Regions from separate parts of the Homo sapiens genome. Here region 2 is linked to region 1. Evidence: fine-mapped expression QTL. A gene starts in region 1. The other region holds a variant in brackets. All regions are shown on one strand. Distances are between the middles of the regions. Region 1 holds the start of MTMR1 (myotubularin related protein 1). Region 2 has its middle 53 kb from the start of HMGB3.

The links. PIP is the estimated chance that this variant, and not a neighbour inherited with it, causes the effect. A credible set is the group of variants that fine-mapping cannot tell apart.
Region 2: its variant is the best candidate, but not a certain one, in a credible set for the expression of MTMR1 in ovary (GTEx, PIP 0.81).

What each region holds. Positions count from the first base shown.
Region 1 is chrX:150,683,793-150,700,503 of GRCh38, reverse strand. MTMR1 (myotubularin related protein 1) reads right to left here and starts at 7,108. Exons shown (of 16, transcript NM_001306144.3): 1 at 6,828-7,108; 2 at 1,204-1,309. The coding sequence starts at 6,973. RefSeq lists enhancers at 5,565-5,644, 5,665-5,764 and silencers at 6,658-6,797, 7,108-7,177.
Region 2 is chrX:151,027,932-151,044,642 of GRCh38, reverse strand. No RefSeq gene overlaps it. Among named protein-coding and RNA genes, the nearest start is that of HMGB3, 53 kb to the right of the region's middle. The variant A/T (reference allele first, on the strand shown) is at 8,231.

The DNA.
Region 1 (16,711 bases):
CAGGAAAAATGATTAAGAAATACACTGTCACTCTTCTAGCTGGGCAGATTATCCAATTTCTGCTAATCCACAGCTATGCCTTCCTTTGGTAGGCATAATCAACAGCATCTGCCAGTTTGGATGAGGCAAGAGACAGCACCATAGCCAAATCTCAATTAATTGGCCTCCTGAGCCTGTTTCTGCACTTGTTATTACCCTATGAGCTCTAAAGAGGAACTGAAGATAAAGCTCCTAAACAAGGAGTACCTATTAAGAATTAATTAGGATCTTTACTGTAATTCTTGATATTTGTAAGATTTGATGTCTGGCAAGGACCATGATATTGAGAGACTATTAACTAATGGTAGTCTGGGATACCAAATGCATTTTACACACACTTGTGAAAAATCAATCATCTCTTACTAGCAGGAAAAATGACCACTAATAAACAGAAACCTCAACTTAGGCAAACATCAGTACTGAAATATAAATGTGATTTCATTTAATATACCTATTAATAGTTTATTGACATTAAAACAAAGTTAGTCTTTAGCCTTAACAAAGATGGAACAAGCGATTTTTTTGATTTGTTAATTGATTCAATATTTATTGAGCAACTGTTATGCTCCAGGATTGTGCCTGGGAAGCCAGTGGTAAAACTGCCCTAGTCTCTGCTGACAAGGAGCTTATCACTTAAATTTAGAATAAGCAGGGAATCTAACTTTTAAAATGAACAAAAAGAGATTTTCACTTCAGTAAGGACTGAAAAATGAGGCTGCCCATACAATACTCTTTTGAGATTCTGGAAGGGTTTTTATACATTCTAGTATCACATGTTAATGCTGAATACTCACAGATAATACATAAATTAAAAAATTGTGAAGTTAGGGAAGTATTGTACATCAAGATATTTCCTGAAACTCACAATACTAACAAAGAAGCTATATGCATTTATTATTATAAAATGGAACTTGATTTTTAAAAGAATCATTGTCATCTAAAGACAGCTTCTCCTTTCAATTACAAAACTATGACTACATGTACTGGATACTGGTAAAATTTCTCTTCTACATTTCAGATCTAACAACAGAGAACCTTTCATCCTTATTCTCGAGCAAATGGCCATGTTGCATCAAAAGGCCAACAGCTCACTTGAATTAAAACTGCAAAGCTTCTTGGCTACTTAGCATACTGAAAATGAATTAAACACTCAATGTTGCTTACCTTGTAATCTCTGGACACATTTTCTGATGTCACTGAACCTGAAATCTGACTAGAAATTGTAGCAGCTATAAGCTGTTTACACCATTCAACATGTGATCCTGTGGGACTAAAAAAAATAGCATGGATTACAAAACGTTATATCATAGGATCTCAGTGAAAAAATTAGCACTGAATAGGAATATGATAACACTTCTTTTTTTAGATGAACTAACTAGACTCTTTGGTTACCTTCACATTTTATGTAAGAACTGAAATAGCGACTGACAACTAGGAAATAAGATTAGATTCCAGGTTAATTTTAAATGAATCACCCAATTTTCTCAAACAAAGTTGAAGATTCTAGGTGTTAGTTAAGCTTACTATTCTCTACCATTTAATGGAATTTTACTCTATTAAAATTATATGGAAGAAATACTTCTTTTTTTTTTTGTGAGATGGGGTCTCACTCTGTCACCCAGGCTGGAGTGCAGTGGTGCAATCTCAGCTCACTGCAACCTCCCAGGTTCAAGTGATCCTCCCACCTCAGCCTCCTATGTAGCTGGGACTACAGGCACATGCCACCAGGCCCGGCTTTTGTGTGTGTGTGTGTGTGTGTGTGTGTGTGTGTGTGTGTGTGTGTGCGCGCGCGTGTAGACAGGGTTTTGCCATGTTTCCCAGGCTAGTCTCGAATTCCTGGGCTCGAGTGACCCACCCGCCTTAGCCTCCCAAAGTGCTAGGATTACAGGCATGAGCCACCACACCCAGCCGGGAGAAATATGTGAAATATTTATCTTACAGCATAGGCTTTTCAAACATTCAATCAATTTCATGTTGGTAGTTTTAAATCTAGAAAATAGTGTACTTTTGAGTGAAGCAAAGTGACTCAGAAAAGTAAAGCTGAACATGAGATTTATAAATTACAGCCTAGAAAAATGATGTTCTCTGTGTAGTACTAACAATACCTTACACTTCTATAAGTGCTTTGACAACTTACAAATGGTTTTTATTTTTTATTTATTTTTTTTTTTGAGACAGAGTCTTGCTCTGTCACCCAGGCTGGAGTGCAGTGGCGCGATCTCGGCTCACTGCAAACTTTGCCCTTCTGGGTTCAAGCAATTCTCCTGCCTCAGCCTCCCTAGTAGCTAGGATTATTTAGGCGCATGCCACCATGCCTGGCTAATTTTTGTATTTTTAGTAGAGACGGGTTTTCACCATGTTGGCCAGGCTGGTCTTGAACTCCTGACCTCAGGTGATCCACCCGCCTTGGCCTCCCAAAGTGCTGGGATTACAAGCACAAATGGTTTTTATTATATCAGAGCCTCACAACCATGGTGTGATGAGAAGGCAGAACAGGGACTAGCCGACTTGTCTTTGAGGAGAGAAAATCGAGGCACAGAGGTGACATGCCCTGTGAGAAAGTGGCTGTCCTCAACAGGACATGGAACAACCAATAGCGACTGACTCACTGCACTGAAGCCAGCAGCACAGATGCGAGCCAACCGCTTTACATGAAAACACAGCAATGCAAAGAAAATGTCATCTTTCACTCCCACAGAGCTCTGAGGCATCAAAGCATTTTCACACACGTAGCCTTGCCCAGCCTCACAGTGACCCATTTTACAGATGAAAAAATTAAGGTCCAGTTTTGCCCAAGGTCACACGACTGGCAAGTGGTCAGGCTGTACTCACCTGACCTGAAAGACCACATAAGCCAACTAGCGCAGTAAGAGATTTAACAATTGCCCCCAGAGGCCGGGTTCCTCTCACAATTTGGCAAAACACTAAGAAATCAAGCTAGAGGGCTAAAAACACCGACAAAAGTTTACCTTGCAGGTAGCTTTCACTGTAAAGAATGTTTCAGGCCTTTAAAAAAAAAATCATATCACTAATTAAACCCACACTCACATATCTGAAGGACAGAAACACCTGGAATCCCCAGGCAATATGGAAAATGACCCAAATAGTAAAAGAAAGAAAACTGAAGTTCTGTGCTAGTGATCCAAATTGCAGTCTCTGATCAAAACAGACCAGAGGTTATCTGTATGGTTGAAAATACTGAATGAGCAGAAATTCCTATCACATGCCAGGAATCTATATACCACAATTTCGACCTGAGGGGGAGAAGGAGAGAAAAGGGAGAGATTTGTTTCCTTTTTAAAGGTTAAGTCACTTTCATTCCCACGTATATCATACTTTTCTTGTCATAATGCCTTTTTCTGTCAGCACCCACCAGTTGCAAATACAGGAAGAAACTGCAGAAACCCAACTGCTGAGCATGAGTGTGACCTGCTATTACCACCTGCCTGCCCGGCATGCCTTCCCCCTTCTTCTGATAAAGACCTTCCTCTTTACTTTGGGAACTGCCCTTCCCCACAACACAGGCTTCTGTGGGGGAAAGCGGAGAAGAAGGTTGACCCCTTCCTCCACCTGCTCCCACTTGTAGGTGAGTTACCTAGGACCAGCCAATCCCAGACTTTTCCCCTTGGATCCTGAAATACATGGATCTGTATCCAGAGCTGCTGGAGGCCACTCCCCACCCCACCCCACCCCTACCATCTTAAGGAACTCACAGCGATTAAAAAGTGAGGGAAAATAAAAGAGAGAGGGAGAGAGAGATGGGGAGTCCCGACAACACTGTTTGCAATCCTGACCTCAACTGTGCCTGTGGCCATCTCTCCTCCTGTCTGGAGCAGTTCTGTGAGCCAGGGCATCTCATTTGCCTTAAGCTAGATTGAACTGTGGTTTCTGTCACCTGCAACCAGAAGCATCCTGGCCAATGTAGTTACACACAGTGAAGCACAGTGGGTTAGCAGACAGGAGGCCTGGACATGAGTCCTGCTTCTGTCACCAGCTAACTCCATGATCTTTGGCAAGACACATCCTCTTACAGGACCACAGCTTCCTCATTATTAATTACAGTATTCAGAAGAGAAGTGAAGGCCCCATAGTCCCAGGGACATGGCCAAGTCCCACCCATAGAGCCAGGTTCCATTCTAGAGGTCACTCTTCAAAGAAAAGTGTGAATCTGAGCTTGTTGAGCTGACAGAACTGAGAAAGGAGGCCATGATTCCTCCCCCATCCCTTCTCTGTAGTCTGTGCAATTGCCCTCTATACTCCTGGTGTCAATAACTACTTACAGGCTGGAGGCTCCCAGCTCTGTTTCTCCAACCTGGACTCTCCTGATCTCAATGCTGATGTTCCTACAAGACCTGTCCACTAGTCTGGCCCAGAGACCCTGCCAATTCAACCTGTCTAAACCAGCATCAGCCGCTCAGCCCCGCAACCTACTCTGCTCCTGTGTTTCCTAACTCAGGGCGCAGCACAGCCAGTTATCCGGCCCCCACACGCTAGAAAGCTGAGGTTTGCCTTGGAGTCCACCCGGCACTCCCCCCTCACATCTGAATGCTCACCATGTCGGGTCACTCTTACCTGGTAAGCATCTTGAAAATCCACCCAGCCCTATTCCTAGCCCAATTCCCTTTTCCAGACCTCCATCATTCTTCTGTGAACTCCACCTGCCTCATGAATTTAAGCCTCATCTATAAGCCCATGACTCCCCAGTTTGAATCTCCAGCCCAGACAACCCTGAACTCCAGGCTCAGATAGATCAACTATATCTTTGACATCTATTCTGGGACATATAATTGGCATCTCAAAATTGATATGTCCAGAGCGAAGAGCCTGCTATTTTCTAACCCTGCTCCACCTTAGAAAGACTTCTCCATCTCAGCAACACAATTTTCCCACAAGCTAAAATTTTGGAATTCTCCCAGATTCTTCTCTCATACCAACCAACCAATCTTCAGCAAACCCCATTGGCTCTACCCTGCAGGTCTTCAAATTACATGTAGTATCTGACCACTTCTCCCCTCCTCCGCTCCACTCTGGACCACCATCTCACTTGGCTTACTACAATAGCCTCCTACTGACAGTCTCTGCTTCAGCTCCTTCCCCTTTCACTCTATTGTCCACATAGCACCATGGAGAGCCTACTGAAATCTACAACAGATGATGTCACTCCTCTGCACAAAGTCCCCAGTGGCTCCCCATGGCCTCTGAGGCTCTCCACCATCTGGCTCTGTGACTTCTCTAACGTCATCCCTTACTTGTCTCTCCCTAGCTCCCTCCCTGCTAGTGACACCTAGTCTCCTCGCTGATCTAGGAACACTTGGCTCACATTCACCTCAGGGGCTTTGCACAGGCCTCTGACTAGAATACTATCACCCCCAGGTATCTGTATGGCTGGATCCCTCGCCTCTTTGGGGGCATTACTCAAATGTCAGCTTTCTCAGGCTTTCCCTGATCATCAAAATCTCTGAAGGAAACCAGAAGATGAGGCATATTTGGGGGTGACACATTCTGGTCTCCTTTGGCTTCTTAAATGATTCTGATGCATGCCCATCCTGAGTACTTCTGTGTTCGCCTCTACCACCTATCTCATTTATCACATTCGATTTCCACTGTTGGTTGGTTTGTATTCTCCACTAGATGGTAAGTCTAGCAAAATGGTAAGGCAGCAAAAGCCGTGTTGTGCTATTCTCTGAATCGCCCAGACCTCGTGTGTGGTTGAATATTTGCAGATGAGTGAAGTCCTCACCATTTCAAGTGCTGTCTTAGCTGTGACTGGTTTTCAGTGACACTAACCACTTGGGTGATTAATTTATTAAAATATATTGTAATTACACTGAGGTAGAAACAAAAGTGAAGGGAATGTTTCTTGTTTCTGTGCTTTTGGAAACTCCCAAAAGTTTGGCACAATGGGATGACCAAGACAGGCAGGAATGGGCATGTAAAACTGACTGAGCTACATTCCAACAGTGCATGCTGCCTGAGTGCACTCTGGTGTCAGGGAAATGGCCAAGTTGTGGGAAAACTGGATGTTCCGGGTTACACGATAGGCCATCTCTTGTCGTCGGAGGAGGCGGTGGCCCCTCCCAGTTCGACACGGTCACTTTATGTTTCTAACTGATTTCTCTTAGTTCTGCAGCTGCCTCAGAAGCAGTAGGCTTGCTTGTGTGTTCATGAAAACAATAAACTGGTTCCCTCAAAGTGTGAAGAACTGAAAGTAAATGGTTCTGTTTTCTTGCCTCCTGAGCAGTTTGGACGTTTTCCATCTCAGATTTTTGCCTCGATCTGCACCAGCTCCCACGCCCGCGGGGTCCCATCTCCCCGTCCTCACTCCCAACCCCCCATCAAAGACCCTAAGCAGCCACAGCAGAATTGGGGTCTTAAAACCACACGAGGCAAGGTGATGCTAGAAGAGGAGAGCCCGGGTGGGATCTCCCTCCCAAGAGGATTGGTGGCCTGGGCAGGGACAGCCAAGCGATCGCCAAGGGCAGCAGGTGGCGGCGCCGGAAGTGGTTTGACAGCTGCGAAGCCCCTCCCGGGGTTCCAGGAGCTGGGGCTCTCGGGGCGGAAGTGAGCCAGGTGCGCGGCCCGCAGCAGGTCCGAGGGCAGCAGTCCCCGGATGGGGCGCTGAGGTTTCCGGGGGTGGGGGGGAGGAGGGCCCAGAGGGGATGAAGAGGGGCCGCCCACCCCGCCACCGCCAGGCCCTGCGCAGCGCGCGGGGAGGGGGCGGGCTGGCCTCGCGCGGGGCCCTCGGGAGTCGGGGCGCGGGAGGCCGGGGCAGCCCGGGCCCCGCTTACCTGTCCAGGGTCTCCACGCTGGGCTGCCGGGAGCCGGCGGTGGCGCCCCCCGCGGCCCGAGGAGGCCTCCTGCCGCCCGCCGGCCCCGGGTTCGGGCCCCCGCCGCCCTCGCAGCCCGCCGCCGCCGCCGCCGCCGGCCTGTCCATGGCGCGCCGAGTCCTGCCGCCTTGGGGAAGCCGCCGTCGGGACGGGAGCGGCGGCCGGGAAGGTTTCGCTGCTTGCCTCCTGCCGCCCGCTCTATACCGCCCGCCCGCCTCAGGCGGCCGCCGCCATTAGCTGTCACCTGGCGGCCCCGCGTTACCCACAAGGCCGCGCGCGCGGGGGTCGGGGGGCGGGAGCGGGGGCGGGGAGGGCGGCGCGCGGGGCCGGCGCCGGGAACCCCCACCTCGCCCAGCCCCACCTGGGCGCTCGCCCACGGAGCCTTACAGCGGGGATCTGGGACCTCCTGCTCCAGCGACCTGGGTGCGTACAGAGCCACTGGGGTTCGGAATCCCCAAACGGATTATGCGTAGCGTGCTTCACTCTATAGTCACACCGGGTTGACTGCAGAGACGTGGGGTGTAAAAAGAAGTTTGAAGACATTCAAGTATCAAAAATGATTTCCCACCTCAGTTGTCCTTCCCGGAAAAGGTATAGAACAGCTCAAGCTCCCTCGGTCTTGACATCTTGAAGCAGGAGCAATTCCGTGCATTTTAGCAATTCCTCCCCACCCCATTCTTCCCTCCACTCTCCCCCTCCATACGCACCCCGCCGCCCCGCCACAAACCCACCCCCTTGCCATCTGTAGGGCAACCAAGTGTTCTGATGCCGCCCTCGGAGCTTCCGCCCATGGTTTATGTTAAGAGTAACATTTAACTTCTGTTGATTAAAAAATCACTGCTATGAACATCAAGCCAATATCTTGGTGAGGCATTTAGGACATTTGCTTTCTGGGCTAGATTTATTTCCTTGCTCATTTTGTTTGGGTTCGAATATCCAACAGCTCATCCCCTCTCACCTCACCCCTGATTAAGTTGGGAGTGGGTGTGTGGCTCGTGATTAAGCCTCTTTGCCTGTGATTGCTCTGGGTGTAGACAGGAGGCCTGCGACCCAGGTCTGGAAAAGAAGATATAAAGGGAACAATTTGCTCACTGTTAAAAGGCAGATCTGCAGACAGGGAGTTACTCATGCCCATCCCAGACCCATCCTGCCCCACCAGCTTAATAACTTCAAACTGAACTTTGAGGATATGATGCCTGAAGCCCCGACAGCCATCTTACGCACAAGAGGAGGTGAGCCTGGGGTAAGAAGATGACAGAGTGAGGAGGGCTAGGAGGAAGGAAAGGAAGATCCCCAGACAATAATAGCTCCTATCTCACACTGGAGAATCACCGACTGCAGGTTGCTGGCTTTCTAAAATTATTAAATCAAATGGTTAACCCACTGTTATGGACTGAATGTTTTCATCCCCCTGAAGTCCATATGTTGAAGCCCTAATTCCCTGTGTGATGGTATTTGGAGATGGGGTCTTTGAGAGGCAATTAGGTCATGAGGGCCAAGCTCTAGTCTGATGGAACTGGTGCTTTTTAAGAAGGGTCACCAGAGAGCTTGATCTCATGCACTCACATGCACACACTGAGAAAAGGCCGTGTGAGTACACAGCAAGAAGGTGGCCATCTGCAAGCCAGGAACAGAGCCCTTACTAGGTCCCTGCTGGACACTTAATCTTGGACTTTCCAGCCTCCAGAGTTGTGAGAAAATTTCTGTTGTTTAAGCCACCCAGTCTATGGTATTTTGTTTTGGCAGCCTAAGCACACTAAGACACCCACTTTTAGTTGGGTATTTTGTTACAAGTAGCTGCAAGCATCTTAGCTGTGCTGAGAATTGTCAGAAAGAAAACAGTGCAACTTTAAGCATATTTTAAGTACCATATTCTTTAAGAAACATTAGGCCAAAGAGGAATTCACTGTGACACTGTCATACTTCCAATTCAGTTAAGTACACTTAGGATTTAGAGGACAGAGATGAATCTGACATATCCCTGCCTAAGATGTTCACAATCCAGTGAAGGGGACAGACAAATTAACAATGACATTACAAGTTGGCAAGTGCTATAATGGGGACAATTGCACAGGATGTGGAACACCTACCCCAATCCATAGGAGAAGAGGAGGTCAGGAAAACTTCCCCAAAAAGGTGACATAAAACTGAATCTTTAAAGATGAGTAAATCCTTGATGAGGCAAAGGAGTCAAGTTATTCCAGGCAGAAGGCACAGTTATGGGCAAAGGTGTGGATTAGTAGGTATATTAATCTGTTTTGCTTTGCTGTAAAGGAATACCAGAGACCTGGTAATTTATAAAGAAAAGAAGTTTATTTTGGCTCACAGTTCTGCAGACCGTACAAGAAGCATTGTGCTGGCATCTGCTTCTGGTAAGGGCCTCAGCAAGCTTACAATCATGGTGGAAGGCGAAGAGGAAACAGGCATGTCAAATGGTGAGAGAAGGAGCAAGTGAAAGGTGAGGGAGGCACCAGACTCTTTCAAACGACCAGCTCTTGCATGAACTCATAGAACGAGGATTCACTCATTACCACGGGGAGGGCACAAAGCCTTTCCTGAGGGGTCCACCTTCAGGATGTTCACAATCCAGTTTGCAACCCAGACACCCCTTACTCAGCCCCAACTCCAACATTAGGGCTCACATTTCAACATGAGATTTGGACGGCACAAACATCCAAACTCTATCTGTAGGTTAAATAGCTTATTATGTGCAAGAGAATGCCAAGAAATCGAGTGTTACTGGAGCATAAAGTCAGACAAGATAAGTGAGGATCTGGACTGGTGGTAGGCCAAGAAGTTTGGGCTTTGTTCTGCAGCTCACCAGATCTCAAATGTTAGTGTGCAAGAATCAGCCCCAGTCTGCATTTTCAGCAAATGCTCCCATGATTCTGATGCGGGGCTTGCTGCACTTGGAGAAATACTATTGTATAGTCCCCCATCTACGTCCATTTGATAGATTGTGCTTCCAAAGACTGCTGCAATAATATCCCCCATCCCACACACTCTTTTGCAAGGTGATCTTACCACTCATACATCAAGAGGTGGATTCTGTTTACCTTCTCCTTGAATGTGGACTGGCCCTGTAACCCCTTTGACCAATAGAATGTAGCAGAGGTGATGCTGTATAATTTCCAAGGCTAACCCTTAAGGGATTTGCAACTTCCAGTTTGCTTTCTGTGCATACTCCTTCTTGGAAGTCAGCTGCCATACTCTGAGGAAGCCCAAGCAGCCACAGGGAGAGGCCCATATGGAAGAGAACCAAAGCTCTCAGCCAATAGCCCTAGCTGAGTTCCCCAGGCAGCATGGCCAGAAGCCAGCACTAACTGCCAGCTATGTGAGTGAGGCCATTTCAAGCCTTTCAGTCATTCTGGTGGCCTAGCCAACACCACATGAAGCTGATGAATCATACAATTGACTCACAGATTTTTGAAAACTAATGAATTATGGTTTTAAGCCACTAGGTTTTGGGGTGATTTTTTGTGCAGCAATAGAGCACCCAAGCATTGCTCTTGATGAATGATCCAGAGAAGTAATCCCCTACCTGCTCAGCTCCCTTCCCCATTCAGCTATAGGAATCCATGCACAAATCACAGCCACACTCCAAGGAGGGTACTCCACAGTAGTAGGTCAGAAGCTGTTATAATCTAAGATTTTACCCTACTAGCAAGCTGAAAATTTAGTTGATCACCACACTCTAACACTCTGAGAGAAAATATAAAGCCTCTGGATCCGAAACAAAGACAGTTTATTATTCACAGCAAAATCAGCAGCCACAGCAATATCTTGGATCTGCATCCTGAACCCCAGTCTCTACAGGGTGGCATGCTGTTCTGCAGTGCAACCTTGCCACTCTTACATTAAGAGGTGGTATCGGCTGGGCGTGGTGGCTCACGCCTGTAATCCTAGCACTTTGGGAGGCCGAGGTGGGCAGATCACCTGAGGTCAGGAGTTCAAGACCAGCCTGGCCAACGTGGCGAAAGCCCATCTCTACTAAAAATACAAAAATTAGCCGGGCGTGGTGGCACATGCCTATAATCCCAGCTACTTGGGAGGCTGAGGTAGGAGAATCGCTTGAACCCAGGAGGCAGAGGTTGCAGTGAGCTGAGATCCTGCCACTGCACTCCAGCCTGGGCGACAGTGCGAGACTCCGTCTCAAACAAAACGAAACAAAACAAAACAAAAACAGGTGGTACCTATTTCCCCTCCTTTTGAATGGGGGCTGGCCTGTAACTGCCTTTGACCAATAGGAGGCTAGATAGTATCTGCACATGTAATGGGATACACCACAGGAGAGAAAACCCCAACGCAGGAAACTCTGGCTACTAGTGACCTACCCATTCTCCCCTGCAGGGAGAGAGATTACTCGTTACCTTGGAATGAATGATCAGATGTAAACAAATGTCCTTTGTGGAGATTTACATTTACTACCCTGGATTGGAATGTCTCCTCATACCAACTTTACTAACGTGGCTGTAAATGTATTTCCTCAGAGAACCCTGACCATGCTGAAACCGGAGATAGTCATGGTGAATTGTCTCCAAACACACACAGGCCCTACCACCCCCTTCTGCCCACATGGGGGTCTAGTCATAGTTGCTGGGCTGACTATACTGCATTCCTAGAAATCACTCTAAGAGGACAGGCACATGGTTTTTGTATGCCACCTGGAGCTGGAGTTGTGTGGTGGGAGGCAAGGTGAAGAGTGACTTCTCAGGCCCGTGGTGATGCTCACCAGGAAACAGGAAAGGCCTCCTTTGAATGCCCAGCTGCACTCTGCAGTTCCTGCTGGGGAAGTGGGAAATGTATATGAGTATGCTGCATGTTTGTGACATGTTTATGCATGTTTATGCCATGTTTATGTAGAAAGTAGTAGTTTTCAAAATTACACGCATGAAAATGACTTGGGACATCAATTAATGTGCAGATTCATGAGCTTCACCACAGAGAATCTGAAAATTTAGTAGTTAGCTAGGGTGGGTGCTAAGAATCCACATTTGATAAAGCACCTCAAGTGATTCTGATATACATGGTTTGAGGACCACACTTTGAGAAACCCTGTTAGAGGTGACAAGGAGCCACAGCAAGATCTTGGAAAGGGGTGAACTGATCATATTTCCACTCCAGAAAGATCACTAGGATTGCATGATGGAGGATGGACTGGAGGGGCAAGAGTGGCCGTGAGAAGGTCAGTTAAGAAGTTGTTGTCATAATCAAGGAAGACCTGATGCATGAACCCTAACATTGGACAGGACTCAGTGACTGATGGAATGTTGGACATGAAGTGAGGAGGGAAGGAGATGCCAACGTGGGCCAAGCCTGGCACTGAGGTTTCAGACTTGGAAAACTGGGTAAAGGAGATATTAGCCACTGATAAAAGGAATCCAAGATGACAAGCAGGTGGGAGAGGTCAGTGACCAGGATGAATTCATTCTAGACATGTTGAGCTTGACCCACCCTAAGTCCAAGCCCATAAGTTGCCTTTGTGTATATTAGAAAAAAGAAAACCCTTCCTAACAACACTGGACTTCTGTTAGTCATAAAATTGTCATAGTATAACCAATTTTGTTAAAGCTCAACCTTTGGCTGCCATATGCCAAGAGACTGCCATAATAGACCTAGAAATCTATGTGGACCTCATTCTGAAGGATCCCTGTCTTAGTCTGTTTGTGCTGCTACAACAAAATACCACAGACTGGGTAATTTAGAAACAATAGATAACAATAGATATTTATTTCTCACAAGTTCTGGAGGCTGGGATGTGAAACATCAAACCTCTCGCTGGTCTGGGCCTGGTCTCTCTGCTTCCAAAATGATGCCTTTGTTGCTACATTCTTCAGAGAGGAGAAACGCTGTGTCCTCACATGGCAGAAGGTAAAAGGGTGAACACCTTCTGTTAAGCCCTTTTATAAGGGCACTGAATCTCATTCATGAGGACAAGCCCTCATGACTTAATCACTTCCCAGCAGGCCCCAACTCTTAACACCACCACCATGGGGATCAAATTTCAACAAGTGAATACTGGGGACATTCAGACCATAGCAGTCCCCCTTAGATGTGGCCCCCTTGTGCACTTCACAACCTGTGCAACAATGCATAGCAGTCTTGGGGGGTACCTATGGGTATCCAAGTGGAGATGTCCAGTAGACAGTTGGAAAGGAACTCAGGAAAGAGAGGTAATAAAAAGTTGGCTAATTTTCGTAAAATTTGAGGACAGAGGAACTCTTTGTAATTTAACCTTCAGCTTCACGATTTGGAAACTACGGTTGGGATCATCACTTTCATTTCTTGAAAACAAATTAAGCAAATGAAAGTGGACCTGATCGTCCCTTGTAAAATAAATTTCTCAAAAACATAATTTTGCTAGGACTGAGCAAAGCTAATCCTCAATGGAATTACATGTGACTGCACTGCAGAGAAATGTTCCCATCATTTGGAGGGTTTGTAGTGTCAGCTCAAAAGAGCAGGGCTTCTGCCCTTATGAATGGGTTAGTGGATTATCATGGGAGTGGAATTGGTGGCTTTACAAGAAGAGGAAGAGAGGCCTGAGCAAGTACGCCTAGCTTCCTCACCATATGAGGCCCTGCACTGCCTTGGGATGCAACAGCGTTCCCACCAGGAAGAAGGCTCTCACCAGATACGGCCCCCTGACCTATGACTTCTCAGCCTCCAGAATTGTAAGAAAAAATTTATTTTCTTTATAAATTATCTAGTTTCAGGTCTTCTGTTGTAAGCAACAGAAAATGGACTAAAACAATAAACTACAGAAAAAGCACCACAGATGACTTAACTTTGCCTTTAGAAGTTATCTGGAAGGTTCTCAGCCACAAGTTCAATTATTGGCAAGGCTAAAGGATGCCTCGGGAGGCTTTTGCCTTCACCACCCCCATCATCTCCACCATTCTTTGATGTTGAGATTCCTGTATCCTCAGTCTTATGACAGGTGCTCTACAATGCAGTGTCAAGCTCACCTTCACACAGAGACTGCGGTCCAGAGACCTCATACTCTCAAAGCTCCAGAGACTCCACTTGCCTCAACCTGGCAAGCATATTTCAGAGACACACTTTTTGCCCCACTCAGTAAACACATAAATTTCTCCCAGATAAATTCCCTTAAGGCAGCCACATTTAAGCAAGCAGCTGAGATATAGTGGTCTGCAAAGGAGGGAGAAGAGTCCAAAATAGGAGGAGGTCCAGGAGATGAGGTTGTCAATGAAGTCAAAGGAAGAACATTGTCTTCAGAATCAATCTTGACCTTGGGTGCCTGGGTGGAAAGTGATGCCAGTCCCTGAGATTAAAAAATAAAAATAAAGAATAAAAAAAGAAAGAGAAGCTATTTGAAGTGGAAGAGCCTGTAACATGTCCAGGAGTGACGGGGTAGATGGGTCTGGTGCCCAGGAGAAAGGCCGGGCTACAGATTTCAGCCTAAAGGTGTAAAACCTCGAGAGGCAGAACTGGCTAGCTGTGTAATGTGTAGGGCCCAGGGCAAAATGAAAAATGCAGGGTACCTTGTTCAAAAGTATTACAAATTTCCAGATGGTGATAGGAAAGCATTGAATCAGGAATGGGGCCTTTCTAAGCATGGGGCCCTGTGTGAGTGCACAGGCCAAACACCCATGAAGTTGGCCCTGATGAGAATGTGTAAATTTGCCTGGGGAAAACATGTAAAATGAGAAGACAAGTGAGCCAAGGAGACATACTAGATCATTGGCACTGACAGGGCAGGTGAAAGAAGAGCGGCCCGGGAAGAGCTCGGGGGGTTGGCAGAGACAAGCAAAGAGTCAGGGCAGAGGGGGCATGGGAGCCAAGAAAGTCAAGAGTTCTAAGATGGAAAGAGTGATCCAGAGTGTCAAGTGTTGCTGGGACATCTGGTAAGACAAAGAAGTGTTCCCTGGATTTGACTGCAAGGAGGTGGTGTGGACTCTGCTGAGAGCACTCCCAAGGGACAGAAATGTCTGGGAGGGCAAAAAGAGAGACAGTGAGTTCAGACCACCTAGTCACAGGTTTTGAGTTGCATGGACCAATAAAATGAAAACAAAACCGAGACCCACTGTTGTTGTTGTTGTTGCCATTGTTCTTGTTGCCATTGTTGTGTGCCAGGACCATAACATATGACTGCCAAGTAAGGACTGTGTACATGAGGCTCCATCTTTGAGAACCAATGTTGAAGCCTTCCATTGCCCTGCTTGCCAAGTAGATGTCAGCTGGAGTTAGGGGGATCCTTTTCATCCTGAGCACCACCACATGGGGCTCACCAAAAGTGGGGAGAAAAACACACAGTCTCTTTGCCACCTATGCAGACAGCCGTCAACTCAGTCTGGGCTTGGGCAGTGATGCTTTGCAGCCCTAGGGTGGACTGGGCAGCAGGAGACCTGGACTCCAAAGCTGGACTGCTTTGTAAGGCCTTCAGCGCAGAGTTTTAACACTCTTGTTTGAATGTTAGAGATTTTTCAAACGCTAGAGATATTCACATTCAAATATAAGTTAAAACATCAGATATTATATATGGATTATCCATTTCTCTAAGTCTGAAATAGCATAGTAATTGACTTGATGTAATTAGAGGCTGAAATTTATAGACAGTAACCATCAGGTCTTAGGAGAGGTGTGCAGATGTGTTTAGGGATGAGAAAGATAAATGCTTTTCTTGGATGAGATTTTGAGTCCATTGGAGAAGCAGGAGCATGGACTATATTTTCCATTCTTTATTTTCAATCTTTGTGTATCTTTATAGGTGAAGTGTGTTTCTTGTAAGCAATAGTTTCTTGTAGGGTCTTGTTTTTTCATCCATTCAGTCACTCTATGTCTTTTGATTACAGAGTTTAGTCCATTTGCATTCAATGTTATTATCGATAAGTGAGGACTACTCTTGTCATTTTGTAATTTGTTTGCTGTTTGTTTTGTGGTGTTTTCTTCCTTCTTTCCTGTCTTCCTTCCTTCTTTCCTTTAAGTGAAGGTGATTTTCTCTGGTGGTATGATTTAATTTCTTGCTTTTTTTACATTTTGCGTATTTGTTGTATATTTTTACATTTGAGGTTACCATGAGGCTTGCAAATACTATGTGATAATCCATTATTTTAAGCTGATGAGAACTTAGCACTGATTGCATAAACAAATAAACAAACAAGCAAAAAGAGAACTAATAAAAACTCTACATTTTAACTTTATCTGCCTGTTTTTAAACTTTCTATTGTTTCCCTTTGCCTTATTGTATTGCCTATGTCTTGAAAAGTTACAGTTATTATTTTTGATTTATTCATTGTTTAGTCTTTCTACTTGAGTGTTTTACACACCACACAGTCTTATAATATTCTGTGTTTTTCTTTGTGCTATTACCAGTGAGTTTTGTACCTTTAGATAATCCCTTATTGCTCATTAATATCCTTTTCTCTCAGATTGAAGAACTCCCTTTAGCATTTCTTATAGGACAGGTCTGGTGTTCATGAAATCGCTCAGCTTTTGTTTGTCTGGGAAGATCTTTATTTCTCCTTCATGCTTAAAGGATATTTTCGCTGGATATTCTATTCTAGCATTAAAGTTGTATTCCTTTAGCACTTTAAATACGCTATGCCACACTCTCCTGGCCTGTAAGGTTTGCACTGAAGAGTCTGCTGCTGGACTTATTTGGGCTCCACTGTATGTTATTTGTTTCTATTCTCTTACTGCTTTTAGGATTCTTTCTTAATGTTTGATCTTTGGGCGTTTGATTATTAAATGCTTTGACGTGGTTTTCTTTGGGATGATACATGCATGGGCCTAGCTCAAAAGAAAGCATGTGCATAGGAGCCCAGCAACAGAGAAAGCAAGCTGTGCTCTGGAGGAGGCAAAAAGATGAGGCACCCCAGAAT
Region 2 (16,711 bases), 340 kb before region 1:
TCCTGCCAGCTCTTCATCCCTTTGCCTGCTTGTGCCCCTCTCCTTCTCACTTGTTGCTAGCAAGTTGCACTTGCTGGGGCCAATTCCATGCCCCAGCACATTGTTCTGCCACCCCAAGCACAATGCTGACAGTGCTCAGCTCTGCCAGGAAGCCTACCATATCCCTTTATGCCCATAGAATCTGAACCAGATCCCTGGGTGAGAGGTTTCAGGAGCTCTATGCCCTCAGCCCCAAACCTAGTAGGCTGAGTGGAAGCCCCACCCCCAGAGGAGTTGCCCAGGAGGAGGTTCCAGAGCACTGTCAAGTAAGATAGAGAATTGAAAAATCAGTGACCTTTTCAAGAGGAGCTTAGGTTCTGGATGGGAGATGGCAGCATGTTTCAAACCTGAGAGTGGGCAATGGCAGAAACAGGCAGCAGAATGGGGTTGAGTTGGTGGTAGGGGGCGACTGTTGGGGTGTAAGGAGTTAAAAACTAATACCACCCCCCCTTCTATGTTCAGAATCAATTGACAAACTTCACGAATTTCCTGAACTCCAGGAATGTACCTGCCTCTTTTAAGTTCAAGTTGGTACAGACTCAAATCTCTTTGTCATTTCCCCTTAACATGTCACACAGAACTTCCAAAACACTTAGAGAGCCAAAACCTGACAGAAATGACAAGGAGCACTTACTCTAGGGAAGGTCTTCTGGTTTCCAGGAAGAGATTCTTTTCAGCTTCCCCAAGTAAGGGGAGGAGAGACTAGATGAATTAGACATGTGGGGTTTGGCCAGCTTATATCCCTTCCTCCTTCTTCTGACAACACCTTGTTTCTCCATTAAGGAATTAGTCCTCTCAATCTATGTGGCCCTGAGGGGAGTGGTCAGTCATATCCCAGACTGGCTAATAGGGATAATCCATTCCCCCAGCCAGAGTAATTGGTCTAGGGGTGAACACATGACTGAAGCTGGGCCAATGAGAGTCTTTCTAGAGAAGTGCATCCTTGGAGATCTCTCTCTGATAGCACCACAATCAATAACATCGACTTAAAGTTAATTAACAATTAACTTTAATAATTGTTAATCAACTTTAAGTTGTTACTAGATGTCTACAAAAGAAATAAATTATTTACAGAATAAAGTAGAAATGTGACAAGAAAATAGACCCAACAAAAGAAAGGAGAAGCAAAGCCCTGGCAATATTGAGCCCCTAAAGTCAACTCAACCAATGGACTTCTCAGTTTAATGAGCTGATAAATTTTTTTTGTGCTTAAGTTAGTTTGAATTGGATTTCCATTATTTATCTAAATTGTTATGACTACTGCAATGCACATAAATGAGAACCAAAGACTCTATGGATCTTCGCTGGGACCACCAATGTGGGCCAGCTGCTCTGCATCCGTTGCCCGTAGATTTTGTGACAAACTGACTTCTTCACCCTCTACTCTCCACTTCTCATCTACTTCATGGCTTTTGGACTCTCATGGTTCATGCTTCCTGATAGCTTCAGCCTCCTCAGAACTTGCCATAGGTACATTACATCTCATGGCTCCTCTGACCTCTCTTGACCTCAGGGACTTTCAACTTCTGCTCTCACTGCTTGCTACCTCATCCTTCAGACGTTTTCCAGCTCAAGTTCCTTAGAGGAACTGATGAGTCAGGCTCATGTTTTCATGCTGGGCCACAGCACAGAACGCTATATAAGCACACTGCAAGCTCCTTTGAGGGCATCCAAATATTTCATTTTTTGAGCAATTTAAAATGGTATTGTATTTTTTATTTTCAGTTGCCACATGTTCATTGCTAGTATATTAAAATCAATTTATTTTTGTATTTTGATCTTGTATCCTAAGACAGTGTTGAATTCACCTCCCAATTGTAAGAGTTGTGGCTTTTTTTTTTTTTTTTTGAGACGGAGTCTCGCTCTGTCGCCCAGGCTGGAGTGCAGCGGCGCAGTCTCGGCTCACTGCAAGCTCCCCCTCCCGGGTTCACGCCATTCTCCTGCCTCAGCCTCCTGAGTAGCTGGGACTACAGGCGCCCGCCACCACGCCCGGCTAATTTTTCTTGTATTTTTAGTAGAGACGGGGTTTCACCGCGTTAGCCAGGATGGTCTCGATCTGCTGACCTCGTGATCCAAGAGTTGTGGCTTTTTTTTTTTTTTTTTTTTTTTTTTTGAGACGGAGTCTCGCTGTTGCCCAGGCTGGAGTGCAGTGGCGCCATCTCGGCTCACTGCAGGCTCCGCCCCCCGGGGTTCACGCCATTCTCCTGCCTCAGCCTCCGGAATAGCTGGGACTAAAGGCGCCTGCCTCCTCGCCCGGCTAATTTTTTGTATTTTTAGTAGAGACGAAGTTTCACTGTGTTAGCCAGGATGGTCTCCATCTCCTTACCTCGTGATCCACCTGCCTCGGCCTCCCAAAGTGCTGGGATTACAGGCGTGAGCCACCGCGCCCGGCCGAGTTGTGGCTTTTTAAATTGATTCTCTGAGATTGTCAACATAAACAATCATGCCATCTGCAAATAAGAGCAGTTATTTTATAGGGCCAAAACTGATCGAGCTGAAAAGATAAGTAGACAAAACCATAACAATAGTTGGAGGCATCAATACCTGTCTGTCAGTAATTGATAAATCCAACAGGTAGAAAATCAGCAGGAGTATAGATGACCTGAACAGCACTCTCAATCAACTTGATACAACCGATAGTTATAAAATACTCTATCCAACAACCACAAAATGCACATTCTTCTCAAGTTCACATGGTAAATTTACCAAGATAGACCACATTCTGGGCTATAAAACTCACCTTAGAATTTTAAAAGAGTAGAAATCATATAAGTATGTTCATATACCACAGTGGAATTAAACTGGAAATCAAAAAAAAGAAAGCTAGCTACAAAACTGCCAAATATTTTTTAGATTAAACAACATACTTATAAATAACACATGGGTCAAAGTCTCAGAGAAATTTTTAAATATTTTGAACTAAATGAAAACGTATCAAAATCTGTGGGATGCAGTGAAAGCAGTTCTTAGAGGTAAATTTATAGCATTAAAAGCATTTATTAGAAAAAAAGAGATTTTCTTGGGGGGGCGATCCCAAGATGGCCGAATAAGAGCAGCTCCAGTCCACAGCTCCCAGCCTGAGTGACGCAGAAGACGGGTGATTTCTGCATTTCCAACTGAGGTACCAGGTTCATCTCACTGGGACTTGTTGGAAAGTGGGTGCAGCCCACGGAGTGTGAGCCAAAGTAGGGTGGGGCATTGCCTCACCCAGTAAGCTCAAGGGGTCGGGAAATTCCCTTTCCTAGCCAAGGGAAGCTGGGACAGATGGTACCCGGAAAATCGGGACACTCCCACCCTAATACTGCACTTTTCCAACGGTCTTAGCAAACAGCACATCAGGAGATTATATCCCACACCTGGCTCAGAGGGTCCCACACCCACGGAGCCTCACTCACTGCTAGCACAGCAGTCTGAGATCGAACTGTGAGACAGCAGTGAGGCTGGGGGAGGGGCATCTGCCATTGCTGAGGCTTGAGTAGGTAAACAAAGTGGCTGGGAAGCTCGAACTGGGTGGAACCCACCACAGCTCAAGGAGGCCTGCCTGCCTCTGTAGACTCCACCTCTGGGAGCAGGGCATAACTGAACAAAAGGCAGCAGAAACTTCTACAGACTTAAACCTCCCTGTCTGACAGATTTGAAGTGAGTAGTGGTTCTCCCTGCACAAAGTTTGAGATCTGAGAACAGACGGACTGCCTCCTCAAGTGGGTCCCTGACCCTCGAGTAGCCCAACTGGGAGACACCTCCCAGTAGGGGCTGACTGACATCTCATACAGCCAGGTGCCCCCCTGAGACGAAGCTTCCAGAGGAAGGATCAGGCAGCAATATTTGCTGTTCTGCAATATTTGCTGTTCTGCAGCCTCCACTGGTGATACCCAGGCAAACAGGGTCTGGAGCAAACTCCAGCAGACTGCAGCTGAGGGTCATGACTGTTAGAAAGAAAACTAACAAACAGAAAGGAATAGCATCAACATCAACAAAAAGGACATCCACACCAAAACCCCATCTGTAGGTCACCATAATCAAAGACCAAAGGTAGATAAAACCACAAAGATGGGGAGAAACCAGAGCAGAAAAGCTGAAAATTCTAAAAATCAGAGTGCCTCTTCTCCTCCAAAGGATCGCAGCTCCTCACCAGCAACGGAACAAAGCTGGATGGAGAATGACTTTGACGAGTTGACAGAAGTAGGCTTCAGAAGATCAGTAATAACAAACTTCTCCAAGCTAAAGGAGGATGTTCGAACCCATTGCAAAGAAGCTAAAAACCTTGAAAAAAGATTGGATGAATGGCTAACTAGAATAATAGCATAGAGAAGACCTTAAATGACCTGATGGAGCTGAAAACCATGGCACAAAAACTATGTGACGCATGCACAAGCTTCAGTAGCTGATTCGATCAAGTGGAAGAAAGGGTATCAGTGATTGAAGATCAAATTAATGAAATGAAGCGAGAAGAGAAGTTTAGAGAAAAAAGAATAAAAAGAAACGAACAAAGCCTCCAAGAAATATGGGACTATGTGAGTTTTACTTTTATGTTGCTTTTGCCTGAGATGAAGTACTCTTTTTGGCCAGGACTGAGTCATGCAATATTACCCCTATGGCTGAAGGGAGTGGAGATCATTAAACCCTGTGAACCACATGGAATGGGCAGGGATACTATACAATGATTATGATACTACTACTACTAATATCTATTGAGTGCTTAGTAAGTTCCAAGCACTTAATGTATTAACTCCCTTATTTCTCATGGTAACCCTATAAAGTAGGCACTAGTGCAGTGGTCACCACTTATCTCTGGTTTTGCTTTCAGCAGTTTCAGTTATCCATGGTCAACCACAGTCCGAAAGTATGGAGATATTTTGAAAGAGAGAGGGAGAGAGAACATTCACATAACTTTTATTGTTATAATTGTTCTATTTTATTATTAGTTATTATTTTTAATCTCTTGCTGTGCCTAATTTATAAATTAAACTTTACCATCAGTATGTATATATAGGAAAAAAAACATGGTATATACAGGGTTCAGTACGATCTGCAGTTTCTGGTATATCCACTGGAGGTCTTAGAACAGATCCTTCATGGATAATGAGAGGCTACTGTACTAGCCTCACTTTAAGGATGGAGAAACCAAAGCATGATGAGGTTAAGTAATTTGCCCAAGGTCAGACGTCCAGTAGATGATAGATTGAAGAGAGGTGATTCCCCAAAGGAGTGGGTGTTGAGCCAATAACAAAGCATATGTCCACTAGTTAGTTAAATTGTGTTCATGCTAATTCAGCAGTAGCTATGAAGAAGAGACTCCCCGATTCTGATGTCTAGCAAGGTGAATTCTCAGAGCTTTGCTATGGAACTGGGAGAATTTATTAAGATTGGCCTCTAGCCAGAAGCAATATACCCTTCAAGACCAGCCAAACTCCCTTGGTTCCTGAGAAACTTGTGCTGAATAATTTGATTTTTCAGATGTCCTGAATGGGAAGGGAAAACCCTAACCAACAAGATCTAGTATTCCCATAGAGAGATGTATAGCAATCTCCTCCACAGAGAGATGGATCTGCTGGCTTACAGTCTAACTGCCAGTCAGTTGAGAGTTTAGGGAGAGTGAGTCACTGCCCCATCTCACTCCCATTCAGAACCTCAAACTTCAGGGTGAACTGGGGAGAGCAAGATTTTGGCCCTGCAAACCTGAGGGGAAAAATCCATGGCTTTTGATGTACTGTCTCCTCTCCCTAATAATGGATAATCTTAGTAGTAGTATCATGATTATTATACAGCATCCCTGCCCATTCTGTCTGGTTCAGAGGGTTAATGATCCCCACTCCTCTTGAGCCCCAGAAGTGGCACTACATGACTACGGCTTCTCATCTTCAGAGGCTTAGGCGGCTTACTCATGCTTGTTGCTGTTATCATTGCCATCTTCTCCTCTTCCTCCTCCTCCTCCTCTTCCTCCTCCTCTTCTCTCCCTTGTCGAGAGAGGAAGAGAGAGGAGACATGCACCACTCTCATGAAGGCAGCCAGTGATAGAGGCAGGCTATCCCAGACACCACCAGCTAACACAAAGCCCGTTCACCCTCAGGTTTCTGTGTGCCAACCTGGCATAGCTGTCCCTGGCACCTATAGGGTGTGGCCTTCAAATAGCTGTCAGTTGCTGAGGGAAGTAATCCAGGCCCCTGATGTGTCACTCGTGCATGCTTTTCTCTTTTTCCCCAAAAATGTATTAGGCATGTGGACCACCAATTACATGCCAGGCCCCCTTGACACAACTTAATCCTCTGGTCAAGTGTTTGGAATTATGATGACAAAGGGCGCTGTCTTCTTGGATTCTCCAACATTCTTATCAGGTCCTTGAAAGTGCCAATGCAGTTCCCAGACACCAAATGGGCCCTTAGGAAGACAGCATTCTTCATTCCTTCCAATTAACAGATGGGGACATAGAAGCTCAGTGAGATTAAGTGACTGATTCAAGGCCACACAGTTAAGTAGAGGAGGAGAAAGTCCTTAGGTTTTCTGACTGCAAAGTTAGTGCTCTTGGCCCTACACCAAGCTAACCTCCAATGAGGGGATTTGCATCTCTCTGAGGGATATCAAGCCATAGTGATTCATGCTGAGGGGAGAGCATGAGCCTGCAAGTTGGGAGGCCTGGTGTATGAGTTTGCTAGGGCTGCCATAAAAAAATACCATAGGCTAAGTGGTTTAAACAACAAACATTTACTTTCTCACCATTCTGAGAAATAGCACTATTTCTCTAACTGCTGGTAATGCTGATTCTCAAGTGTCAGCTTGTTCTGGTGTCAGCTTTTGCAGGAATTGTTCACAGCTGAAAAGAGTAGCCTAGCTCCAGGTCACATCCCCTTCAAGGGACAGCTCCATCCAGTGACTGGTTGATGTGGGAAGAGGAGGGGTATAATGGCCCAGCCCCTCTCCACAGCTCTGAATGACTCTGAAGAGCCATTCCAGCCCCAAAGTTCCCCTTGGGGTTGACCAAATCCTTGTTGTGACTTCACTGCAGCTCAACTGCTCCTTCTGCCCACTGGGCTTCCTGTCCTTCCCTTGTCCAGGCATTGATCCCGAAAGCACACACAACTCCGCCTCAGTATCTGTTTCCCAGAAAACCCAACTAAGAACTGTAACAATAATGATGATAAGGTGTGATCGCACTGCAAGAGGAACATGTTTATGCTGCAGTGGAGGAGATCATCATGTGATCTCATTCCCTACAGCTCTACTTTCACTCACACCATTGCAGGCCCACAGATCTTTTTACTGTTCCTCATACACACTGTTCTCCTCAGGGCCCTTGCACATGCCATTCCCCTGCCTAAAATACACATCTCCCAGACAGCTACACAGCACACTCCCTCACCTCCTTCAAGTCCAAAATTACAGCACCACTTTCACCATCTGGCACTGCTGGCCTTCTCCATGCGTGACTTTTATCCATAGCATTTACCGCTTTCTAATGTACTATAGACCCTACTTCTTTATCTTGTTTATATGGTCAGTATCCCCCAACTAGAACGTCAGCTCCATGAGGGATGGGAATTTTGTGTGTTTTTGTCCTTATTATCTGCCTATTTACAAAACACCTTCATCAGTGCCTGATATTATATAGTAGATCCACAATAAGTACTTATTGAATGAATGGATAGATGGATGAATGAACTGTATAATTAATAAGGAAACAGGGATGCTCAAAGACTTCCTAGAGGAGGTGCCACTTAAGCTGAATGTGAAAGCGAAATGTGACCACTGGAGTTATTCTGAAGAGCCTCCAGGAATCAATGCACAGGAGTTTGGCTTGTGAATTTTCCATTTTCCACTTTTGGGTAGTTTAAGGCTATAGGCTTTTTCATTTAATTTATTTTACAGTCCCATAAAAATCAAAGGGAAACAAACATGTTTTTTTTCTTTTACAAGCGTGAGAACTTTGGGAATGTGGTTGGAGGCAGAGGGGCCCAGAGCCTGCTTCCTTGGTCCATACGTGTACGTAAAAATCATTCACTGAGCAGTTTTACAGTCAACAGAAATTTTTGCTTTTATTTATTTTTTATTTTTTGTGGCAGTCCTTTCAAAGCAAACAAGCTCTTGGTAAAACTGAAGCATAGAGTCCTAACCAAGTTGCTCATATGTGAAAAAGCTTTGGGAAATTCAGGGACTGTATTTGCAATAAAACCTTTGCAGTGGCCAGGGAAATAGG[A/T]TTGTATATTCTGGTTAATGCAAGTGTCTGCCGAACAGAATTACTGTGAATTCCCAGACCTTGATGAGCTCAATCCAGAAAACTGAAATATACCAAGCACAGAGAACACCAATACTCCACCAAAGAGAACTTCTTCCTTTGATCACTCAGAAGGTATTTGCATATTTTGCAAGCCTCACTGTCACCTTGATGACCCCGAGTGTCAGTGATTGTGCGACTTTGAGAAATGTAGGTGTAACTGACCTCTAGTTGGGAATATGTTCGGCAGCCTTTGTAATGAACTCATTAAATGAAAGTCAGTTTCTTAAGAACTTGTTTCCCATGTGCCTTCTAATGCAGTGGTTCTCAAGGGGTCAGGTGGTTGGAGGAAGTGCTCTTAGAAAGGCGGAGAGTGTCTCAGAATTATCTGGGGGCCTTTATCAAGGTAAATACCTCCACTCACCACAGCCAGAGATTAAGACCCTCCCACAGTTTATCACAAAGCAGGTACATTTATATCTGCATTGCCAATGATAGTGCTGCTCAGATACAAGCTCTAGGCTCCAATCCTTCCCCCACCACCTACTGAGAGTCTAACACAGGACAATGACCAGTGGGGAAGATCAGCCTGCCTGCCTTCTACATAGTAGTAGAATGACTTTGGACAATGGACTTAATTGAGCCTCAGTTACTTTTTCTGAAAGCTAGAGCTAATAATCCTAGCACTGACTGCATACACTACACTTCTATCTGGCCAAGAGAGACTTTCAGTACTTTGTGTCTCTCCACGAAGTCATCACATTCTTATGGACAGCCAGATACATTTCCTTTTATATAGTGCCATCTCTAGTCAGCCTCAAACATGTCACGCCTGTGTTGGCACCATCTTCATGGCCCCAGAACTTGCCATCAATGGACAATGAGTATTACCAGAAGTAGCAAAAAATACTCCAAAAGGCCTGCGGCCCTTCTAAGATTAGGACTGTCTTTGGTATATTCCAGTGTGTTTGGTATATTTCTTGAGTTCCAGTATATTTGGTATATTTCTTGAGTTCCACCCTGATCTCCAAATAATTCTCTGTTTTATGTATCTGACCTTCCAGGAATGGCCATCTTGAACTAGAATTCAGTTTCAGTTTTCCAACATGCTTCTCACCTTCCTACCTTGTTTTTCAGTGCCAGGAAATAAACAAATCCTTAGAAACTAAACTCAAACAAATACATTCATTTATTTAATCATTCATTTGCTCATTCAGCAAATATATGCTAAAGGCTTACTATGTGCCAAGAGCTGTGCTAGGCTGTGAGATACAATGATGGATAAAGCAGGCATAGTTTCTGCCCTCATGAAATTTATAGTCTAAAGGGAGAACAAAAATTAACAAAGAAATACTTATTCAAAAACTGTGCCAAGTGTCATGAGGGAAATGAATGGGGTACCCTGACAGAGGATGGAGAGAAGGAGGCATCTACTGAGAGAGGGTAATAAGGAGCCATCTCTCAAAGGAAGGGACATTTTAGCCAAATGCAAATGGATGAGAAGCCAGGCATGAGGAGAGTAGGGGAAGGATATTCCAGGCAGAGGGAAGAATATGTGCAAAGGCCCTGAGGCAGGAAAGTGTGACTGGAGTACGTGCAAGTGAAGGAAAGTGGCAGGAAATTAGGCTGGGGGTGGGCAGCAGCCAGATCCTATAGGACCTTGTGGGTCACGGGAAGGAGGTTTGCTTTTATTCTAAGTACAAAGAGATACTATTGCATGATTTTAAGCAGAGGAGTGACATGAGTTGAAGTTACATTTTCAAAAGGCTCACTCTGGCTGCTATATAGAGAATGGATTATAAAGGGCAGGATTGGAGCCAGGACACCAGAAATAAGCTACTGCCATAGTAAGGGTGACAGATGATGGTGACTTGAACTAGGGCAGCAGCCATGGGGAAGGAGAGAAGTGGACCAATTCAAGACATATATTTTAGAGGGAGTATTGGAATGACTGTCCAAGAGTTAGTGAGCAGTATCCTGTCCCAGAGCTGCGGTCAGGGATGGCAGGGAGTGGAGTCCTTGGCTTAGTCAATTTTGTGCTGCTATAACAGAACACACAAGACTGGGTAATTTATGAAGAACAGAAATTTATTTCTCATAGTTCTGGAGGCTGGGAAGACTAAGATAAAGGCACCAGCATGTGATGAGGGCCTTCTTGCTGCATTCTCACATGGCAGAAGGCAGAAAAGGGCAAGAGGGGATGATTCTCCCTCCTCTTGAGCCCCAGGAGTGGTACTGCATGACTTTCTCTCCTCACATACAGAGGTTTAGACAGCTTGCTCAAATTTGCCATTGTCATCGTCTTACTCCTCCCCTTCCTCTTCTTCCTCCTTCTCCTCTTCTTCTTTCTCTTCTTTTCCTCTTCCTTCTCCTCCTCCTCTTTCTCCTTTCTCTTCTTTTCCTCTTCCTTCTCCTCCTCCTCTTTCTCCTTTCTCTCTCCTTTGCTGGGGCCGGACATGCACCACTCTCATGAAGGCAGCTGGTGATAGAGGCAGGCTATCCCAGACACCACTGCCTAGCACAAGGCCCATTCACCCTCAGAGTTCTCTGTGCCAATCTGGCATAGCTGTCCCTGACACTTGTAGAGTGTGGCCCTCTCATAGCTGCCAGTTGCTCAGGGCAGTAATCCAGGCTCCTGATGTGTCACTCATGTGTGTGTGTCTTTCTCTTTTCACTACAAATGTATTAGGTATGGTGAGGATGGCACCTCCCTCAGCCTGGGCCCTGAGTCAGGTGATAGATGACTTGCAATGGATACATAGAATAAAGTGAGAAGTAAGCCTTATTGAGTTAGCACTGAGATTTGAGGGTTGCTTGTTACTGCAGCATTACCTAGCCCAATCTGACTGACACACCATCCTCCCAAATTCCAGCTTCAGATCTAGGAGCCACTACTTCTCCATAATTGAGCACCTCTTCACAGAGACCTGCCCTCCACTAGACTTTTGCCCCACAGACCTGTCCTTGGGGTTACCCTGGAGCTACTTTCCCCCAAATAATGACTTTGACCTTCTCAACAAGTTGTACCAGGCCCACGTGAAAGCCTAGAGCAGAGTCAGCCTGAAGGCTGGGGTCAGGAGCAAGCTGGGCAGTGAAATGAAGAAATAAGATGATTGTTAATGGGTTGGATTGTGTCCACCCCCATTCATATGAAATCCTGACCCCCAGTACATCAGAATGTGATGTGCTGCTTTGGAAATAGGGTTGTTGTAATTAGTTAAGATGATGTCATTAGAGTGGCCTCTAATCCAACATGATTGATATATCCTTATAAACAATGGAAATTGGGGCTGGGTGCAGTGGCTCATGCTTGTAATCCCAGCACTTTGGGAGGTCAAGGCAGGAGGATCACTTGAGCTCAGGAGTCTGAGACCAGCCTGGGCACCATGGCAAAATCCTATCTCTACAAAACATACAAAAATTAGCCAGGTGTGGTGGCACACACCTGTAATCCCAGCTACTCAGGAAACAGGTGGAAGATCTCTTGAGCCCGGAAGGCAGAGTTGCAGTGAGCCAAGATTGTGCATCTGCACTCCAGACTGGACAATAGTGTAAGACTGTCTCAAAACAAAAAAGAAGAAGAAGAAGGAAATTTGGACACAGAGACACACACAGGGAGAGCACCATGTGAAGATGAAGGCAGAGGATTAAAGATTAGATGATGATTCTACAAACCAAGGAATGCCAAAGATTGTCAACAAACCCCCAGAAGCTAGGGGAGGGGCCTGAAACAGATTCTCTCTCACAGCTCTCAGAAAGAACCCCAACCCTGCCCACACCTTGGTCTTGGACTTGCAGCCTCCATAACTGTGAGGAAATTAATTTCTGCTGTTTAAGCCATTTAGTTCGCAGTGCTTTGTTACAGCAGCCTTAGAAAACTAATTCAATGAGAAATAGTAGTGAAATTCGCAGCAGTGTTCATAGGCAAACTTTGTAGCCCTTCATGCAGTTTTCAGAGTGTTTCCAAGTTCCCATGGCAGCTGGAGATGTGGGCAGACTAAGTAGGTCCCCAGACTAGGCAAAGATTATCAAGCATAGGCTGGAATCAGGGGACCTTGAGAGTTTGAACAAAAGACATCCCAGCTGGAACCACTATAGACCAAAGTTACAAGAGCCACCACTGGCTTTTGGACTTTGAGAACACCTCTAGACTTTGGCATGATCTTGGGATGAAGCCCCATTAGTGACTGAAATAGAATTTTCTGCCATCCTGGTATTGTGAGTTGAATATAAATTGATTTAAAGAATTATTTTAATGAGACCTTCCTGGTAGCCCAAAATTTGTGGACTGAGATGCAGAAATTCTACATTAGCTGCCATTTATTCAGTGTATACTCAGGTCTTCCATGGCCCCTAAACATGGCCTCCAATGCCAAGCATGGCCAGGCCTCTGCCTTCCCTGCAGCCTCATTTCTTACTACTATCTTTCTCTTCCCTAAACATACCAGGCTAGTTCCCATCTCGGGGCCTCTTCACCTGCTGCTGTATTTACGTTTAACACTCGCATTAGTCATCCACTCTCTGCCTCCCTCTGGTTATTCACAGTTCAATTCATTGTCTACTACTATATTTCCCTTCCCTAAACATATCAAGTTAGTTCCCATCTCCGGGCCTCTTCACCTGCTGCTGCATTTACGTTGAACACTCGAATTAGTCATCCACTCTCTGCCTCCCTCTGATCATTCCCTCTGATCATTCAGAGTTCAATTCAAATGCCACCTTTCTAGAAAGGGCTCTCTTGACTTCCCACTCTAAAATAGCGACTTCCTCCTCATTCTATCACATTATTCTGCCTCATTTCCTTAGTATCCATTACTCACTTTGACATCATCTGGTACATCTGTTTACTTACTTGTTTATTTTCCTCCCACATTACCCACTGCAGGGCAGGAACTCCATCTGTCATATTGACCACCATGCACCAGCCCTGAACAGTGCCTGGCACATAGTAGGCTTCCAATTAATAGTGTTGATTGAATAAGTTAACATCTTCTCATTCATTGCCAACCCTGAGTACCCAGCACAGTGCCTGGCACCTACACACTCAAATAATAACTGTTGAAAGTGGAAAGAATGCCTAGAGTGGAGCCACATAGAGGAGGAACAGCCAGTGCCTCCTACTAGAACTGAGGGGTGCAGGGTCTCTGCCACTCCATCCCCACATTAGCCCACCACATTGATAGACATATGCCCCTCTACCACCATATCAGCAGGACAGAGCAACTGCTGACAAACAAGTTTCCATTTGTCATGTACCTTGGCACCCCTGAGATGACACATAGGTTTCTAAGACTGTTGTCTGATTCTTGCACATAGGTCCAGGATAGAGTACTACATAGCAACAGCAATTTTCTGGTGTCATTTCAAGAGCTTCAGTGATTGAGTCATGTTGGGGCAAGGAGAACACCCACTTCCTCCTCCTCAGAGAGGAGAAGTTGCCTTATATGATAGACAAGTTTGTAACTTTTTAATTTTTTTCACTAATATGATTCTTAAATTGACAAATCCTAATTGTATACATTTATGGGGTTCAAAGTGGTGTTTTGACATATGTATGCAATGTGGAATGATTAAATCAATTGCACAGCAGGGTGGCTATAGCCCATAATAGTGCATTGTATGCTTCAAAATAACTAAGAGTAAATTTCAAATGTTTCACCACAAACAATAATAAGTAAGTGAGGTGGTGGGTACGTTTGAAAGGAGAAACTAGGCATTGGTAGGCCAGCTCCTTCTTCCATTTCCCACTTTCTCTACACTGCCCTTGGCCAGACAGGAAGCCTACAGGTAAGGGAGGAGGTAAGGAGAGTCTATCTGTGCCTTTCTTCTTTGTTTTAGGTCTCAACTGCTTGCAGGCTCCAGTGAGGAAGAGAAACGCTGTGAGTTGAGCTCCCTGAAATCCAAAAAGTAAAACCAGAAAGGAAGCTGAAATTGTAGGTGGGAAGGAAGGCAGTGCTGGAAGGTTGAGCAGTGCCCAGCAGGTATGTTTTACTGAAGGGAGCCAGGAAAGCACCATGGCAGGTAGGTGGTGAGGGAGAGCATTGAGGACAGAATCAAGTGTTCATACTGAGAAATGAAGGATACTGGAGCCCTCAACAAACATGGAGCATGTTGCAGGATTCTCCTTCACAGAAGCCATCAGCAGCCATAGTCTGAACAGCATTTGAGGCACACACCAAGGTGGGCATATATATCCGAGGTATCCAATGGCTTGGGAGAGCTAAATGCCAGGTGGAAGCGGGGATATCAGGGATCTGCCTCAAGTCAGTGTAGGTTGAAGAGCTGTTTGCCTGGGAATTACTACTCAAGAAAATGTGTCTTTCTAATACTGATCTGCATATTTATAAGTCAGGTCCAGTCTCATTTCGATTTGGTGTTGACTGGCTGCCGGTGAAGTAAGTCTGAGGGCACTCCATGCACAGGTCCACTGCAGGGACCTAGGCTGCAAACTCATGCTGGCCAATCCAGGAGCCACAAGCCCCTTGTGTTCATAGAGCATTTAAAACTGGGTTAGTCCCAATTGAGATGTAGAAAAAAAAAAACACACTGGATTTCAAAGACTAAAAATAATTTTATATTATGTCTTGAAATGATTACATGTTGCAAATAATGAGTTAAATAAAATATATTGCTAAAATTAATTCCACCCTTTTCCAGTTTTTGTTTTTTGTTTTACTTTTAAATCTAGCTAGTAAGAAATTTAAAATTACACATGTGGCTCGCATTATATTTCTACTGGACTGTGCTGGTCTAGACAGTGCTCGTAGTGATCGTAGCCTATGATCTGCTCTCCCCAGCAGAGATGCTTGGGTCCTGTATTAGTTTGCCTGGAGTGCCATAACAAAAATGCCAAGGACCAGGCAGCTTAAACAACAGAAATGTATTGTCTAACAGTTCTGGAGGCTACAAATTCAAGATCAAGGTGTTGGGAGATTGAGTTCCTTCTGAGAGCTGAGCTGTGAGGGAGAACCTGTTCCAGCCCTCTCTTCTACCCTCTGGCAGCCTTAAGTGTTCCTTGGCACAGAGTTGGCATTCATTCTCCCTATGTCTCCACATCATCTTTCCTCTCTGCTTGTTTGTCCCTCTGTCCATATGTCCCCATAACATTCTTGGGACCTATTTGTAGCCACAATGGAGCTCACCTAGGGAGAAACGGATGGAGTTTGACAGAGATAGTTTTACTGAGACAAAGTATAAACACAATGATACCAATGGATTCTCAGTAGGATACTTTTTTTCTTTTTTCTTTCTTTTTTTTTTTTTTTTTTTTTTTAAATGGAGTCTCGCTCTGTCACCCAGCCTGGAGTGTAGTGGCGCAATCTCAGCCGCAGTCTCGGCTCACTGCAACCTCCGCCTCCCTACTTCAAGCAATTCTCCCACTGCAGCCTCCCAAGTAGTAGCTGAGATTACAGGCATGTGTTACCACACCCGGCTAATTTTTATATTTTCAGTAGAGATGGGGTTTCACCATGTTGGCCAGGCTGGTCTTAAACTCCTGACCTCAGGTAATCCGCCCACCTCAGCCTCCCAAAGTGCTGAGATTACAGGCATGAGCCACTGCGCCCAGCCATCAGTAGGATACATTTTAACAGCATTATTGTCCTAGGCTGAAGCTTCGTAATGTGTAGAACCAAAGTCTCTTTCAGCCAGAGGGATTGAGTCCCTCTGAGCTGGGTTCAGCTAGCTCAGCCAGTGAAAAATCTTAAGTAAATAGAGACTTGAGTAAAGACTTTTTGCAACCAGCCTGTGTGGAGTGGTGAGCACTAAATGCTGCCAGTCCGATTATATTCACTGACATCTGGGACATGATCCCAAAATTTGGTCTAAGCTCATTTCCCCGATGGCATTCCCTACTGCAGCACTTTCCAAACTTTTTTTTTAGCCATAAAGCCCTTTCTCTAAACAAAATGTTACATGGTGGCAGAAGATGAACTCAGAGCCTGTCCCATTGGAATTGAGTGAGGGTAGTTTGAAGGCCTAAAGCACCTCACACTGAACTTCGGGGGCTCCTAGGAACACAAGCTTAAGACTATCCCACTCCTTCCCAACTGTATTTGCTGGCCTGTCTATCAAATCTGCAGGCCTACCTCTTTTTTGTCTTTAAACTAACTAAACAAAAAAAGTGTTTCAAAATAGTAACAAAATAAAAATTTAAGTAATTTTTTGATGTAGAAAACTTGGTGAGATAGAAGGTATAAGAATGAAATGAAAAATCATCCATAATCCTGGAATCCAGAAATAACCACTATTACGGCCAGGCGCGGTGGCTCACGCCTGTCATCCCAGCATTTTGGGAGGCTGAGGCGGGCGGATCACAAGGTCAAGAGGTCGAGACCATCCTGGCCAACATGGTGAAACCTCATCTCTACTAAGAATACAAAAATTAGCTGGGTGTGGTGGTGCATGCCTATAGTCTCAGCTACTTGGGAGGCTGAGGCAGGAGAATCGCTGGAACCCAGGAGA